2 separate regions of the Homo sapiens genome follow, and region 2 is linked to region 1. The links come from fine-mapping of genetic effects on gene expression. A gene starts in region 1. The other region holds a variant in brackets. All regions are shown on one strand. Distances are between the middles of the regions.

Evidence for each region. PIP is the estimated chance that this variant, and not a neighbour inherited with it, causes the effect.
Region 2: its variant is fine-mapped to the expression of CEBPA in whole blood (TOPMed, PIP above 0.99).

The regions. Positions count from the first base shown.
Region 1 is chr19:33,297,575-33,305,890 of GRCh38, forward strand. CEBPA (CCAAT enhancer binding protein alpha) reads right to left here and starts at 4,960. Exons shown (of 1, transcript NM_004364.5): 1 at 2,360-4,960. The coding sequence starts at 4,840. The coding sequence ends at 3,764. It overlaps CEBPA-DT (CEBPA divergent transcript), which reads left to right and starts at 5,247. Exons shown (of 1, transcript NR_026887.2): 1 at 5,247-7,483. RefSeq lists silencers at 4,791-5,360, 5,441-5,700.
Region 2 is chr19:33,263,610-33,271,925 of GRCh38, forward strand. No RefSeq gene overlaps it. Among named protein-coding and RNA genes, the nearest start is that of CEBPA, 35 kb to the right of the region's middle. The variant C/T (reference allele first, on the strand shown) is at 4,956.

The sequences.
Region 1 (8,316 bases):
AGACACTCCTCACCAGGCCCAGTGGCTCATCGCAGGTGTCAGGGCCAAACCCCACGTTCACAGATTCCCAGGAGATCCAGGAGATAACAGTAATATCCGTGACAGCACTAAGCCATCAGGACGCATCTGGCAGCAGAGGAGATGCCTCCCTCCCTTCTACCCTTGCCCTTTCCTTGAAGGCCAGCTAACCCTGAACAGCGCTGTCACGGGACACAGGGCTCAGGAGTGGCGCAGCAAGGGGGGCGAGGTCCCTGCAGTCAGGTGCTACATGTCAAGGGGAGATCGATCAGGGCAAAGGAGAAGCATCCAGGCATCTTGGGACTGGGGCCAGCAGGAGGCCACCCTCCCCAGGTATTTCATCAAAGCTGCTGCCTCCATAAAGCCCTCCCTGGTGGACCCTGTTCACACTCTGAGATCCCCTTCATTGCACTTGGCAACCTTAAACCACAGCTTAGGGCCTCAAGGGTGTGAGCTCCCCAAGAGCCAGAGCAGAGTCGGCTTGTTCCCAGCCCAGTGCCCCATCTTTGGCGCAGGCCCTGGCATACAGTAGGCATCTGATAAATACTTGAGGTGTGTTCAGTGCTGGGCTCTTGGAATGGTTCTTCCTGAAGGCTGTAGTCAGGAGGGGAACTGTGAGGAACCCTGCAGGAAGCGGTGGGTGGCCAAGGGTGACTCTGTTCCCGGGAAGCCCCTACAGCTGGACACGGGGTACATGCTGGGCAGGTTCACCCCATGCCGCCCAAAAGACCTTCCTCCCCTCTACTTTGGCCCCCCCCGGGGGCCTCGCCCTCCTCATCCCTTTCCTGGGGCTGGATGTGATTGGATCCTTCTTGTCCCTAACAAAGCCCACCCTGGAACTCAGGACCAGGAGGAGGACTCGGGGTAGGAGGGATCCCTTCCGGGAGCCATCAGCTTTAAAAGAGGAAGCCCCTAGCGGGCTGGCACAGCAGAGAGGAGGGGAAGGAGTGAGGGCAGGAGGGTCGCCCCACCCCCTCCCGTCCTAGGACCTGTTCTGGGGGGAAAGGGGGAAGCCAGGGATCAGCCCCCTCAAACAAGAAAAACTGGAATTAGCACTGAACTCAGAGGGTTTGCTGGGGCTTAGCAAGCTGCGACCTGCCCCAGGCCTCGGGGCACGCGGCGGGGCTCTGCCTCCTCTGTTCCCAGGGTGGCGGGGCAGGCGCCGCCTCCTCACTGGGCTCGTGGCCTCTCCTCTGCCAAGGGCGGCCGTGGGTGAGGAGGCGGCCAGACACAGGACAGAGTGGGGGGCCGGAAGGGGTGCCAGCTAACCACGCAGGCAGGTAAAGCTAAGCTTCCAGAGTGTAAAAGGAATGTGTAATTTCTCGAAAATGCCCCAGCCCGCATTGGTACACACAGTAAGCCACTCAGTGAACATTCTCTCGGTACAGAGTTAAAAAAAAAAGAAAAGTGCAATTTATCTTTTACCCTCCGTGAGGGTAAAATCTGAAAAGCACCATCAGCCTCCTGGGCCTCTTTCTCCCGGGCCTTGTTAGTTCAGGGATAAGGGCTGCCCTCCCTTGCTTGGCTGTCACTGCTGCTAAGGGGGTGCCGGAGTGCCTGACCTTACAGGGTGCTCATTGGAGTTGGGGGCACACCAGCACTCAGTCCCCTGCTGGGTCTGGGATGAATGCAGTGGGGAGTGTGGATGCTGGGTGGGTTCTTGAACAGCCAGTGTGTGGGGCAGGACCAGACCCCTGTTGCAGGCCTGCCTCAGCCCCCTTTCTTGTGAGGGCTGGGGCTGGGCAGGTGTGGAGGGCTGGATGGAGGGGTCTCTCTCTTCAGGCTGCCTTCGGGCCTCGCAGGGGTAGGGTGTAGCCACATGGTCTAGGGAAAGAGGAGAGGGTTGGAGGGTCCTACCACTGGAGGCCTCTTCCTGCTGGCCGAGGGTCCTGCTGGAATCTGGAGCTGCGGTGTGTGTGAGTGGCCAGGGCTGCAGCTGTAGGTGATTTGCAAGGAAGTCTGCACAAAGGGCTCCTTGAGCCTAGGGCTGCTTAGCCAGGCCTACCCCTCAGGCAGAGGACTCCCTCTCCTCCTCCCCGGGGCAGATAAGAAGCCTCGCCAAGGCCTCAGCCCAGTAACCCCTTCAGCCCCCTCCCCTGACCCCAAGAGACTGCCTTCAGGCTCTGGACATACTCCATTTGGAGCCTTGTCCTCTGCTATTTATTTGTCTTGCCTGGGGGAAGTAAGTCACCCCCTTAGGGTAAGAGGGGCTCAGGATGGATGGAGAGCTCATGAAAGTCAGGATTGCCGCCAGGGAAAATGCTGTATTATTTACAAATGTGACCTGGCCCACAGACAACCTTGGAAGTAGCTTCTTTCTGGTTTTAAAAAGACACCGACATTGACTTTGATATGTTTATATTATAGATATAATACATAAAACATCTAGAGTGAGACTCTACGTTCTCCCCAAAAGAAGAGAACCAAGCCGTCCTTCCCTGCTCCCAGCCCCAGTGATGCGTTGGCGGGAGGCCACCTCCCTTCCCGACCAGGAGCCAGGGCCTCTGGGGGACAAGCCTTGTGGGCAGCCCAGGCCGGAGGGGCTGGGGAAAGCTGAGGGCAAAGGAGAACCCCCCTCACCTCATTGGTCCCCCAGGATCAAAAGTAATCCCAAAACCAAAAGGAAAGGGAGTCTCAGACCCTTCCCCCAGCTGCCGACGGAGAGTCTCATTTTGGCAAGTATCCGAGCAAAACCAAAACAAAACAAAAACCAAATAAAATGGTGGTTTAGCAGAGACGCGCACATTCACATTGCACAAGGCACTGCTGGGGCACAGAGGCCAGATACAAGTGTTGATATCGGCTGATAAAGCAAAATATTTGGAAAGCTTGTCATAACTCCGGTCCCTCTGGGATGGACTGATCGTGCTTCGTGTTCCTAGGCAATGCTGAAGGCATACAGTACAAACAAGGCTGAGGGTCCCAGTGGCCCTTCACCCCCCATGCCCGCCCCACAGCCAGATCTCTAGGTCTCCCTCTCCCACCAGGGGTATACATCCTCAGAGCTGACCCACGACCTAGCTTTCTGGTGTGACTCGGGGTGGGGGCTCCCACTGGTCACCTGGTGACCCCCATCGCAGTGAGTTCCGCCCCAAGGGGAAGCCCAGCCTATAGCAGGCTGGGGTGGGGTGTGTGCGGAGGGAGGTGGGAGAGGCGTGGAACTAGAGACCCTCCACCTTCATGTAGAACTAGGGGAACAACCTTAGGTTCCAAGCCCCAAGTCCCTATGTTTCCACCCCTTTCTAAGGACAGGCGTGGAGGAGCGGCTGGGGCTGGCGGGCTTGTCGGGATCTCAGCTCCCTGAGCCCTCCTCCTGCCACGGGCCTGCTCCCCTCCTTCTCTCATGGGGGTCTGCTGTAGCCTCGGGAAGGAGGCAGGAAACCTCCAAATAAAATGACAAGGCACGATTTGCTCCCCCTACTCAGTAGGCATTGGAGCGGTGAGTTTGCATTTCCAAGGCACAAGGTTATCCTAAATACTAGAGTTGCCGGGCTCCCAGCTCAGCCCCAAGAATTCTCCCCTCCTCGCAGGGAGAAGCCACCGCCTGGCCCCCTCATCTTAGACGCACCAAGTCCGGCGCAGAGGAAGGGAGGGGACACGCGGAGCAGGCCAGGCTTTCAGGAGGCACCGGAATCTCCTAGTCCTGGCTCGCACGGCTCGGGCAAGCCTCGAGATCCGGCGACCCCAAACCACTCCCTGGGTCCCCGCCGGAGGCTGGCCCAGGGCGGTCCCACAGCCGCGCGCCTCACGCGCAGTTGCCCATGGCCTTGACCAAGGAGCTCTCTGGCAGCTGGCGGAAGATGCCCCGCAGCGTGTCCAGTTCGCGGCTCAGCTGTTCCACCCGCTTGCGCAGGCGGTCATTGTCACTGGTCAGCTCCAGCACCTTCTGCTGCGTCTCCACGTTGCGCTGCTTGGCCTTGTCGCGGCTCTTGCGCACCGCGATGTTGTTGCGCTCGCGCCGCACCCGGTACTCGTTGCTGTTCTTGTCCACCGACTTCTTGGCCTTGCCCGCGCCGCTGCCGCCACTCGCGCGGAGGTCGGGGTGCGCGGCGCCCAGCCCCTTGAGCGCGCTGCCAGGGCCCGGCAGGCCGGCGGCACCGAGCGCGGGCGCGGGGTGCGGGCTGGGCACGGGCGTGGGCGGCGGCGTGGGGTGACCGGGCTGCAGGTGCATGGTGGTCTGGCCGCAGTGCGCGATCTGGAACTGCAGGTGCGGGGCGGCCAGGTGCGCGGGCGGCGGGTGCGGGTGCGGGTGCGAGGGCGGCGGCGGCGGCGGCGGCTGGTAAGGGAAGAGGCCGGCCAGCGCCAGCTGCTTGGCTTCATCCTCCTCGCGGGGCTCCTGCTTGATCACCAGCGGCCGCAGCGCCGGCGCCCCGACGCGCTCGTACAGGGGCTCCAGCCTGCCGTCCAGGTAGCCGGCGGCCGCGCAGCCGTAGCCGGGCGGGGGCCCGTGCGCTCCCCCGGGCATGACGGCGCCGCCGGGGCCCGCGGGCGCGCCCGGGTAGTCAAAGTCGCCGCCGCCGCCGCCGCCCGTGGGGCCCACGGCCGCCTTGGCCTTCTCCTGCTGCCGGCTGTGCTGGAACAGGTCGGCCAGGAACTCGTCGTTGAAGGCGGCCGGGTCGATGTAGGCGCTGATGTCGATGGACGTCTCGTGCTCGCAGATGCCGCCCAGCGGCTCCGGGGCGGCAGGTGGGGCGGGAGGCTGCGCGGGGCCCGCGCCCCGGGGAAAGCCGAAGGCGGCGCTGCTGGGCGCGTGCGGGGGGCTCTGCAGGTGGCTGCTCATCGGGGGCCGCGGCTCCGCCTCGTAGAAGTCGGCCGACTCCATGGGGGAGTTAGAGTTCTCCCGGCATGGCGAGCCTCGGCGGCCTCCAGCCTGCGCGGGGCGTCGCCGCCGCCCACCCGGAGACCCTGCTCGCCCGCGCCCGCGCACCTCCGGGTCGCGAATGGCCCGGCCCGCGCCGGCCCAGCTTTTATACCCGGCAGGCCGCGTCGCCCCCTAGAGTCCGAGGCGGCCTCTGTCCCCGGGCTGCGGCGGCGCGGCGCCTGCTGGGTCCTAGCGCGCGGCCGGCATGGGGCGGCGAACCAGCGCGGCACAGCGCCGCGCTCCCCAGGCAGGCCGCGGCGCAACGCCCACCGCCTCCAGCGCGCCCAGCAGAGCCGCGGCGCTCGCTCCAAGCTCCGCCCCCGGCCCGGCCGTCGCCCCCGCGCCCACGTGGTCGGTAGCGGGGGCCCCCTCCTCCTGCCTGCCCTAGGCGCCCGTATCCAGCCACGGCCGGGAGCCCAGGAGTATCCCGAGGCTGCACGGGGTAGGGGTGGGGGGCGGAGGGCGAGTCTTGGTCTTGAGCTGCTGGGGCGCGGATTCTCTTTCAAAGCCAGAACCAGGCCTGTCCCGGACCCGCGTCCCGGGGAGGCTGCAGCGCAGAGCAGCGGGGCTGGGGCCGGTGGGGGGCCGTTTGGGACGCGCGGAGAGGTCCTGAGCGCGGTGGCTCTGCGTCTCCTAGCTCTGATCTCCAGGCTACCCCTGTGATTCCGCGCAGAGGTACCTCTCGGAGGACGCCGGGGTCCCATGGGCGGCGCCGCGCAGGGCGCTAGGACCCCGCGGGGAGCGGAGGCGGCCTCGGCCCGGGAGCCTGGAGGACCTGGCCGGTCGATCCGCCCGGGCTGGAAAACTTTCTTTATAATTACTTCTCCAGGTCGGAGCGCGCGGCTTGCTAGGCGCGCGGGGCCGGCGCTGTTACCCGGCGTGGAGTCGCCGATTTTTTTTCCTGCGGGACCGCGGGGCCCCCCAGACTAGCGGAGCTGGACGCCGGGGCGAGCACGGGGAGGGGCGCACCGAGGGAGGAGACAAACTTAACTCTGGGGCCGGGATTCCGAGGCGGGGGCCGCAGCCCTCGAGGCCCGAAGCCACCGCTTCCTCCCCCGCCTCCCCATTCAGGTGGGCGCCAACGGCGGGAGCGAGGGTGTCCAGGCCGCCGGGCTGCCAGGTCCGAGCACGCACAGGGAGAACTCTGCCCAGTGGTTCGCCGGGCGCTGTAGTCCCCGGGATCCTAGGGACCGAGGCGGCCAGGCCCTGGGGCCCCTTGAGTGCGGCAGCTAATGCTCTCACCGCGGCGGGGGAAGGAGCTTGCCACCGAGACCCCCAGCCACGTGCGTCCCTCGCATTCTTTACCGGGGCCGGGGTGGCGGCTACGGACCGTCAGCTGGGCCCAGATGGAGTCTTGGGAGCCCTCAAGTGTCTCCTGTCCTTGCCCGCGCCGCCCCTCGCCACTGGCGCTGAGGCCTGACGCCGCCTGCGTCCCGGCTAGAGGCGCGCTTGCCTACAGGTGAGGGAAGACCCCCTTCACCGACAGTGGCCTTAGGCCTGGCAAGGCGCCACGACCCGCCCAGGAGCCCCGGAGGGGGCACAGCTAAAAACACCGCTGGAGAGCCCCGAGCTTCCACGACGATCGCAGTAAAGAAGCAGTTTCATCTGGGCAACGCACACTGCGCTTTAATCAAGTTCCTATTCAACATAGTCCCAGTGATTAATAGCCCAACTGCTTCGTTTTCGGTCCAGAGCTCATAAACAAGATATTTTTAGCTTGACGCTTTTGGACGGGAGGGAGTAAAAACCAGATACGTTAAATAAATATCCCGATGTGAGCCGGAGAGCTGCTTGCTGAGCCAAATGCAGGACCCATTCATATAGCATTCACCTGTGGAGGGAGACCTGGACGGAAATCAAAAAGCACCAAGAGCGATTTGCGTTTTTTTCTGCGGTGCTAAAACTAATGGCTTTTCCTACCTAGGAACAAAGAAACGCCACTGTACATGCACGGTTCCCGGCCTGTGGAGTTGTGGGAGGAAGGCGATGTCTGGCCTTTTTTGCACAGCTGCTGTTGCCTGCCCAGAGATCGGGAACTCTGCCCCGTAGGACTGGAAGAAACCTCAGTAATGGGAATAAGACTTTGTCCAATAGGGGGCTGATGAATGTGTGGGGGCGACAATGGCAAGGAGTGGGACTCCCGGCCCGGGGTTCGCCAACCCCAGGGGCCACAGGTCCTCCTACAATTGAACCAGAATTCACCCACCCGGGCCTGCCCTGTGCAGGGTGCCGAGAGCCCAGGGATGCATGAGAGGGTGGCTCCTGCCTCTGGGAACTGGGACAGTGGGAGAGACGGATAAGTTGTCACACAGAGGCTGCTGGGAGGAAGGAGGAGACAGAAGGAGTAGGGGATGGGACTTCATTCATTCATCAAATGCACACGAGGCACAAATGGGAATCAAGGGTGGATGTGCTGTGATGAAGAGAAGTCCTGCCCTGAACAAGGTGGCGCTGTGGAGGAGGCAGAGATCAGATTTGTCTGCGGAGGTGTTATGGACTGAACTGTGTCCCTGCCCCAAATTCCTATGTTGAAGGCCTAACCCCCATGTGACTGTATTTGGAGATAAGGCTTTTAGGAAGTCATTAAAGTGAGATGATGTCATATGGGTAGGGTCCTAATTTGATAGGATTGGTGGCCTTATCAGAAGAACAATGTCATGGGCATGCACAGAAAGGAGGTGGCCGTCTGCAAGCAGGGAAGAGGCCCCTCACCAGAACCTGAGGGTGCTGGCAGCTTGGCTTTGGCCTTGGGCATCCAGCCTCCAGAACCATGAGAAATAAATGTTTATGGTAGGTCTATGATGGCAGCCTGCTTGGACTGAACCGGCGGTGAGACAGGGCTTCATGCAGGAGCAGACCTTTGAGCTGGGCCTTGAAAGTTGAGCAGGAATTTGCTGGAAGGATAAGGGAGGAAGGCTCTTCTAGGAGGAGGGAATGGTAAGTGCAAAGGTGGAGAGCCTGCCAGTGCATGTGTTCTGGTAACAAAGAACGAGATGGTTGGCCGGCTGGAGAGTGGGGTGAGGGAGGGTGGGGCCTAGATAAGGCTGGATCCGCAGACAGGGCTGGGCTGATGGCCAAGGCCACTGCAGGTGAAGGGGGAACCCTTATCTCCCAGGCTTTTGACCTCCAGATTTTAGCAGGGGAGCTTCGTTGTCGGATTTGGGTTCCTGAGAATCTACTCTGGCCAAGACGGAGAGGGGGTGTTGACCAGATGGGAAAGGATGGAGACTTGTATTGCCCCAGTAATGAGCGGGCAGGGTAGATTAGAACAAGATGTCAGGACTTGGGGGCTGAATGCCAGGCTTCTGGCTGGGATTACCACCCCCTGACACATATAATGCCCAGGAAATTGGAGGCCCCTCTCCAAGCCCCCAGGAGGCCACTGGGGACTCATTCCAGGATACTCACCTGCCTGCTTTGTGGTTTTGGAGGGGAAG
Region 2 (8,316 bases), 34 kb before region 1:
CACTGAGTCCTTCTTACCGTCACTGTCATGTCCGCGGCGAGGCTGTGGGGGACACGGGCAAGAGATTGGAGAGGGGAGAGGGAGAGGAGAGAGGGCCTGGCCTGAGCTCCTGGCAGGCGTTTGTACAGGCTCACGTGCACACGTGTGCACACACAGCATGTACACCTCCTGGCCCTTGACACCTGAGCCGTCGCCAGGCCTTGCCTGTCACCCTTCCATTGCCTCTGCATGCCCGCACCTGTCCACGTCTTCCCCTGCCGCCCCACGTCCCCAGCCACCATCTCTCTTCATGGGATGGCAGCTCTGGCCTCATCCAGGCTCTTAGCCAACAGAGTGGCCATATTATTATTATTATTTTATTTTATTTTATTTTTTTGAGATGGAGTCTTGCTCTGTCGCCCAGGCTGGAGTGCAGTGGTGCAGTGTCAGCTCACTGCAAGCTCCGCCTCCCAGGTTCACGCCATTCTCCTGCCTCAGCCTCCCGAGTAGCTGGGACTACAGGTGCCCGCCACCACCCCCGGCTAATTTTTTGTATTTTTAGTGGAGATGGGGTTTCACTGTGTTAGCCGGGATGGTCTCGATCTCCTGACCTCGTGATCTGCCCGCCTTGGCCTCCCAAAGTGCTGGGATTACAGGCGTGAGCCACCGTGCCCGGCCCAGAATGGTCGTATTATTAAATGACCACATGATCGGGCTGCTTTCCGAACTTCACCTTCCCACGGTTCTAGGAAGCAGCCACCATTATCATGGTGGCCTCCAGGCTTGCGTGTCTAGCTCCTGTCCTTCCTGCCCTCACCTCCCACACCCCTTGGCTTCCTAGCACCTGCAGTTCTGCCTCGACCCCTCCTCAGTGCCCCGGCTTTTGCAAATGCTCTCCCCTCTGCCTGGAAAACTCTCCTCCCCATGACAACTCCCATGCCTCCTATGGCACTCGGCTTTCCTGTCCTTCATGAAAGCATCCAGGGTCCCCGAGTGCCAAGCTGCAGCAGGTCCCTTGTCTCGGGGCTTCCACCCTCGAGGCGTGAGCTCCCCCTGTCACCATCCTGCCTAGGGATTATGGGTGTAATTCCTACTTCCTGCTCACCTCCTGCCAGACTGTGGGCCTGATGGGGCAGGGACCGAGCCCTCCAGTCTGTCTAGGGCCTGGCCGCACCAGGCAGTGATTGAATGAACAGATCCATAAACACACCGAGAGACACGGATGTACCCAGGCCCATGCACAGACACACAAATGCAGTCACCAGCCATGCACGGAAACTCACATTGACAGACGCTCAACCTCACAAACGTGCAAACCAAAGTTACCTAGAGACGCACGCAGTGACCAAGACACACACACGCCCACTGTCTTCTGTCTATGCTCTGGGCTCACTGCCTCTCATCCAGCCCTGCCCCTCGGGCAGGATCCCCTGCGGGTGTGGGCCTCCTGCACTGCAGCCCTGGCCTTAGCTCCAGGGGGCCAATCCCATGTTATGGGCCCCCAGCAGGATTCTCTGGGCCCCAGCCGTGGTCTTGCCACGTGACTACTTACAAGTGGCTTTTATGCTAAATGCACATAATAGCACATTGGCATAATATCATTGCCAATACTCACAGGTACCATGGTTCACACAGGGAGCATGGTGTGAAGCTCCTCTTACAGGGCTTGTTAGAGGAAAGTTCCAGCTCAGGCAAAGGCTTGGGGTGGAGCGGACAAAGCTACAGTTTGGCCTTTTCCTCAGCAGCGTCCTGCTTCTAGAATCACCACTAAAGTTAACCCAGGCGAGGGGTTCTCTCCCAGCCTCCAGGAGGCTCCAGCTGGAGGCAAACCGCCGGTCTGGGAGAGGTACAGTGGCCAGGGAGAGGAAGGGTTTCAGGGTGGTGTGGGTGGTAGGGGCTGAAGGCAGGGGCAGCAGGGCAGGGCCTGGAGGCCAGCAGCACAGAGGGTCCCCACCTGGCTTCATTTTGGGGGAGGGGGCTGGGCAGGGTATCTGGCGGAGGAAGCAAGAAGGGGTGGCCTCAGAGACTGGCTTGCGGAGATGGGGCTGCATTCCCTGTGGAAGGGAGTGGGCCTTCACGGCTTCAAGGCCGTTTGTCACCTAAAGCAGCTACGGGCATCTTCTCTCTTCCCTCTTTCTTTTTAGAGACAGTGTCTCACTCTGTCTCCCAGGCTGGAGTGCTGGGGTGCGATCATAGCTCACCGCAGCTGCAAACTGCCGGGCTCAAGTGATCCTCCCACCTCAGCCTCCTGAGTAGCTGAGACTACAGGTGGGCACCACCATGCCCAGCCAATTTCTGTATTTTTTGTAGAGATGGCTGTGTTGCCCAGGCTAGTCTCAAAGTCCTGGCCTTAAGCAATTCTCCTGCCTCAGCCTCTTAAAGCACTGGTATTAGAAGAGTGAGCCATGGCGCCCTGCCTCTCTTAAAGATGGCTTTAACCATCACTTACAGCACAGCTGCATCCCTCCTTGGCGGGGTGGGGGAGATTCTTTCCCACCTCTCTGAGTGTCCCCATCTGGGTCCTTGCTCAGTGAGAGCCAGACTTTCTGCTATAACCAGGCCCTGAATGAGAGAGAACCAGAGTCATGTGCTGTGCACCAAATGCAGTGGGAAGACACGAGGGATGCCTCGGTGACCTTCTTTTCAAACAGGAGTCTTTCCCTGGTAACCTGCCTCTGACCTTCCATCAGCCAGATGTTATCTTCCCAAGGCAACAGTGTTCCAGAATTCTTTCTGAGGTGGCCCTGGCAGCTTCTGGGTCCTTCTATTCTGATTTCCAGTTTTCTTTTTCCATTTATTTATTTATTTATTTATTTATTTATTTATTTATTAATTATAGGGTCTTGCTTTGTTGCCCAGGCTGGAGTGCAGTGGCACGAACACAGCTCACTGCAGCCTCAAACTCCTGGGCTCCAGTGATCCTCCCGCCCCAGCCTCCTGTGTAGCTGGGACTACGGGCATGCACCACCATGCCTGGCTAACTTTTTATAGAGATGGGGTCTCACTATGTTGCCCAAGCTGGTCTCAAACTAGCAGACTCAGTGATTCTCCTGCCTCAGCTTTCTGAGTAGCTGGGACCACAGGTGAGCACCATTATGCCTGGCTAATTTTTTATAGAGATAGGGTCTCACTATGTTGCCCAAGCTGGCCTCAGACTAGTGGGATCAAGTGATCCTCCCACCTCAGCCTCCTGAGTAGCTGGAATTACAGGCATGTGTCACCATACTGGGCTAGTATTTGTATTTTTTGTAGAGACAGGGTCTTGCTATGTTGCCCACGTTGTGCTTGAACTCCTGGGCTCAAGCGATCCTCCCACCTTGGCCTCCCAAAGTGTTGGGATTACAGGCGTGAGCCACTGCACCCGGCTCCAGGTGCAGTGGAGCCGGCCCAGGCCTCACCCTTTCTCCAGACCTCACATTCCCAGGCTCGTTGAAGGGAGCAGGGTGCTTCAGGCAAACTTGGGGCTCGGGTCTCCAGGCACTTGGGGTTTTCTCCTCCCCCGGCGCTGGCAGCTGGCCTGGCTTCTCTCGGCTGGAGATGCTGAAGACTCCTCGGCTGGTCTGAGAAGCATGAGAACAGAGCTGGGAAAACTGGCCGTTTTTGTGGTTTGGGGGTTTGATGCAAGTTTCACAACTGATCTCCCAAGAACACGGTCGGTCCGGTCAGATGCGCTCCCTGGCCAGGGGCCTGCTTCCCTGCTGACGCCGGTGCTGACCGCCCGAGGCGGGGGCTCCACTCGCCCTCCCCACCCCATTCCCCGCTTTCCTTCTTTAGGGAACAGCCTGGAGGTGTGGAGAAGATGGCTTTGTTTTGGGGGCTTTCGTGGTTTCCACCTCATCCTTCAGCCTGGGGAGAGCTGACGGCCTGGTACCCCTCACTCTCATCCTGGAGTTTTTCTCAGACACCTCTGGGCAGCTGTTCTTAAAGCTTTCATTTTGAGGGGACAGTGGGCCAAGGACGTCTTTTGTAGTGATAATCTTGGGCCGGGGCTGATGAGTGGGAAGTCTTAGAAAGACCTGCTCTAGGGCTCCGGGAGAGATGAGGGCCGCCAGGGAGGCACACACCTCCGTAGCCAGCCCACTCCAGGAACCCAGAGCTGCCTCCCCGGCAGACAGCTGGGCTGGGGAGGGGGTCCTCAAGACCTGGCCCTGCCTCCAAGTAGCCTGGCCCCCGGACCTATCCTTCCACCCTGGGAAGTCCCGAGCTGCCTCAGGCCAGCTGGGGCAGAACTGAAATTGGTGACATGTGCCTCTCTGGTCCCTTGACTCCCGCCCCCGCTCCCTCACCCCCAGAGTCTTCCTGAAGGAGCCTCCAGACCCAGCGAGGAGCCACAGGCAATGCCCACCCTGAGTGGGAGCTGCTGTCCTGCCTTCCACGTGGCCCCAGCCTAGCTCGCCCTTGCGTGAACTGGGAGCTGCCCCACTTCCGGAGGTTGGTGCGTGGTTCTAGATCCTGTCGTCCCTCCGCTTGGGGGCACAACGGGCTGGGACCCATGCACGTTTCTCAGACACTCCATCTCTCATCTCACAGAGCAGGAGGGGTCTGCAAAGGGCAGGCTGGTCAGGACACAGTGTGAGGCAGGGGGCCCCGGGGAACAGAGTCCAGGCTCCACCTCTGCTGAGCAGGCAGTCCTGAGTGTTGTTACCAAGTTTGGGTGAGGGCCTGGGACCCTGTCACATCACAGCTGGGGAAACGGCCAGGGCTGGGACTCAGTGGCGAACAGCAGAACCCAACAGGCGGCCGCACAGACTCACGACCAGGGGGCTCGGTCAGAGGTGGGGACAGAGGGTGACCTGGACTTGCTGAGTCAAGGAGTCAGGCCAGCGCTGCGGAGAATCCCACAGGGCTACGCTTGGGGGCCAAGGAGAGGCACGTGGCCAGGCACATCTGGGTGGACAGAGGGGTTCCAGCCACTCACAGAGCCCTCTCAGTCAGAGCCAGATAAGCCTGGGCAACTGAGCCACTCAGGCAGGGAG[C/T]GGGCGGGCATCTGAGGTCCCCAGGGAGTCTGCCCTCCTGGTGGGCACAGCTGGGCCCAGATGAGGCCCACAGCATTGGGACTGGGCAGAGACACCCAGACATGGCTGCTGCTGTGGGCCCCAGGAAGGCCCCATATTTGGGGTGCATCTGCCGGGTGCCTGCGTCCCCTTCCCGTTCCCTATCCCTGTGCCCCCCTCCCAGCTTCCTGTTTCTGTTTTGGGGCTGCAGGAACTTCCTCTTCTCATCACGGACCAAAATGGCTTCTTGGTCTCAGCTGAAGGCCTGGCGGGGGGCTGGTCACCCCAGCCTGAAGGACAGCCACAGAGCGAGGGGGGCTCCGAGCCTCTGGGGGCGGTGACATCTGCCAAAGGGTGAACTGTGGCCCTTTCCCAAGAGACTCCCACAGCTCCTCCGATGGAGCCTGTCATGTGAGCACCTGCCCAGGCCACGGAGGGCCTGGGTCCTGCTGGAGTGACCCTAAACGGCCCCCTTGTGCCCTTCCCGCCTCACGCAAGGGACCCAAAATATGGATTGCCTGGTCTCCCCTTCCTCCTGCTCCCTCCCAGGCACATGGTGCAGACACTTACGGGCACCGTGTTGGCCTATGTGTGTGGATGAGCAAATACACACACACGGGGTAGGGGGGTGCCCTGAGCCTGTGACCCCCTGAGCCGGTGACCCCTGCCTGCCAGGGAGCAGAGCTGCAGATTCCTGGATGCCGAGGGAATAGAAGGCCTGGCCCGGCCTGGGCAGTACATGGTGAGGGTGTGTGTGTGTGTGTGTGTGTGTGTGTGTGTGTCTGGGTGAGTGTGCCTCTACGCATGTCTAGGGGGCACCATCCTTTTCCTCCCACTCCCCCTGCCCCCTTCCCCTGAGCAGAGCTGCTCCCTTAAATAAAGCTGAGCTGTGCCCTTTGGAGCCCCTGGGCCCTCGAGGGAGTGCAGGGTGACAGAGTGGGCTCCCCTTACTCCTGGGACTCCTCACTCAGGGGGAGCCTGTGGTGGGTGTTGGGGGAGGGCGTAGGAGGTGGGCACACGCCAGGGAGGGCACACAGGATGGTGGCCCCTGATCCCCTGGAGTTGTGATGCCCACAGGAGGGGTGCTTTACCAGGCTTGGGCACCCCAGGAACATCCTGGCCTTGGGATGGGGTGTGGGGGTAAATGGGGGACGGTGCTGAGAGGCCGAGCCCCGGTCTACCTCCCTGCCCATCCAGGGGTCCCGGGATGGAGTTGAGGAGCCAGATGCATCCTCTGGGGGGTTGTGGCCTGGGTCAAGGTCAGGACAGCGCCAGGGAAACTCCTGCTACCAGCTGCCCCTAGCCCCAGGCTGCCGCTGCTGTCCAGAATTCACCCAGCGTTCACTCCATGCCAGGCACCAACACGGACAGCTCCTTTAATGCCCGATGTCCATCCTTGTCACGGACAGGTGAGTACCCTGTGGCCAAATGGGCAGGAGGTTGTGGAGCCTGGCACCCACACTGCAGAGATGCCGAACTCTGGCCAGCGGCCTCCCTCCCCAAGGCCCGCTCCATGGGGAGACAGTGAGGGGAACCCACAAAGCCTGGGGTCACTGGGTCCCCCTAGCTGGCACCTAGCTTGTGCCCCCATTAGCACAGAGAGGAGGCGGTAAAACAAACACTCCCGACTGTTTACCCCAACATCTCGGGGCCATAATTAAGCTTCCTTCAATCGGGCCCTTATCAGCCCGGTATCTTGAGCAGCCTCTGACGGGGAAACATCCCGGAGCATCTAACGAAGGAAAGTTGGACGCCTTTTGAGACTTTTTAAATCCTGAAGAATAGGCCTCTGTTGCCAGCTACCCGCCTGTGGCAGCCTGCCTCATCTCTGGACTCTGCCGGCTGCCCCAGGGGCAGGGGCAGGACCAGGCGGCCCCAGCCCTGGCACCCCAGCCCTGCTGGGATGAGCCCCCAGGCCCTGCCCACCATCTGGCTCCTCCAATTGCAGTGTCCCTGCTGGCCAGCGGTGGGGTCCTGAAGGCACCCCCTCTTCTGCCCTCAATGCCCCACCTCACCCTGCCAGATGCCAATATCTGCCTTCGGCAGGCACCCTTGCCAGCCTGGGCCAAACCCAGGTGGTGGGTGGGGCTGGTGATGAAGGGTGAGCTCTCATTGCCCACAGCCCCCCATCACCTGGTTCTACAAGTTCCCCACCAACCAGGTCCAGACCTGCCACTCTCAGCCTCTGAGCTTTGCTGAAGCTGTTCTCTCCACTTGCAAGGCTTGTCCCTGCTCCTTCCTCCTGGATAATTTCTGCTTATATTTTAAGACTTAGCTTCCAGATGTGGCGGTTCATGCCTGTAATCCCAGAATTTTGGGAGGCTGCATTGGGAGGATTGCTGGAGCCCAGGAGTTCAAGACTGGCCTGGGCAACATAGTGAGACCCTATCTCTACAAAAAATTAAAAAATAAGCTGGGTATGGTGGTGCATGCCTGTAGTCCTAGCTACTAGGGAGGTGGAGGTGGGAGGACTGTTTGAGCCCAGGGGTTCAAGGCTGCAGTGAGCCACTGCACTCCAGCCTGGCCAACAGAGAGAGACTCTGTCTTTTAAAAATTAAAAGAAGACTTAGTTTGAGTATCACTCCCTCTGGGAGCCATCTGTGCATTCCAGGTCAGGCTCCTGTCTCTCCTCTGTGCCCCTCCAACTTCATGGTCTCCATGCCCCAACTCCGTGTGTGTCCCTTGGGGGGCAGACCTTGGGTATCAGGCCAGCCCTCTACCAGGCCCAGAGCAGCCTCTACAAGTGCTCAGCTTCTGTGTATTGGAGTTAAGAAAGCATGACCTGGGGATACCCATGCCGCCCAGCAGCCGACGGTAAACCTGGAGTCCTCACCGCCATGCTCTGAGGGAGGTTCTGTTCACTCCACATCATAAACCGGAAACAGCGCTGGAGCAGAGGCGACAGCTGGGTGCATGGTGGCTGGAGAGCCTAGGATACCAGGCAACAAACCTTTTCTGCAAAGGGCCAGATGGTAAACATTTTAGGCTTTGTGGACCGGACAGTCACTGCTATAGCTTTTCAACTGCTTTTGCAGGGCAAAATCAGCCATAAATGAATGGGTGTGGCTGTGTTCCAATAAAACTTTATTTATAGACACTGAAACGTGAATTTCATATCATTTTCATGTGTCATGAAATCTTCTTTAGATTGTTTTCCAATCTGGTGGCAGGCTGTATTTGGCCTGGGGACTGTAATGGGCTGATTCCTGGTGCAGGGTGAGAATTAAATATGTTTTCCCACCTGGTTCAGGGCCAGCCTGGTCAGTCCTCCCTCAGGGCCCAGCAGCTGCTCGGAGGAGGAAGCAGAGTCACTCCATCTCCAGCCCAAGTGGAGGACACAAAT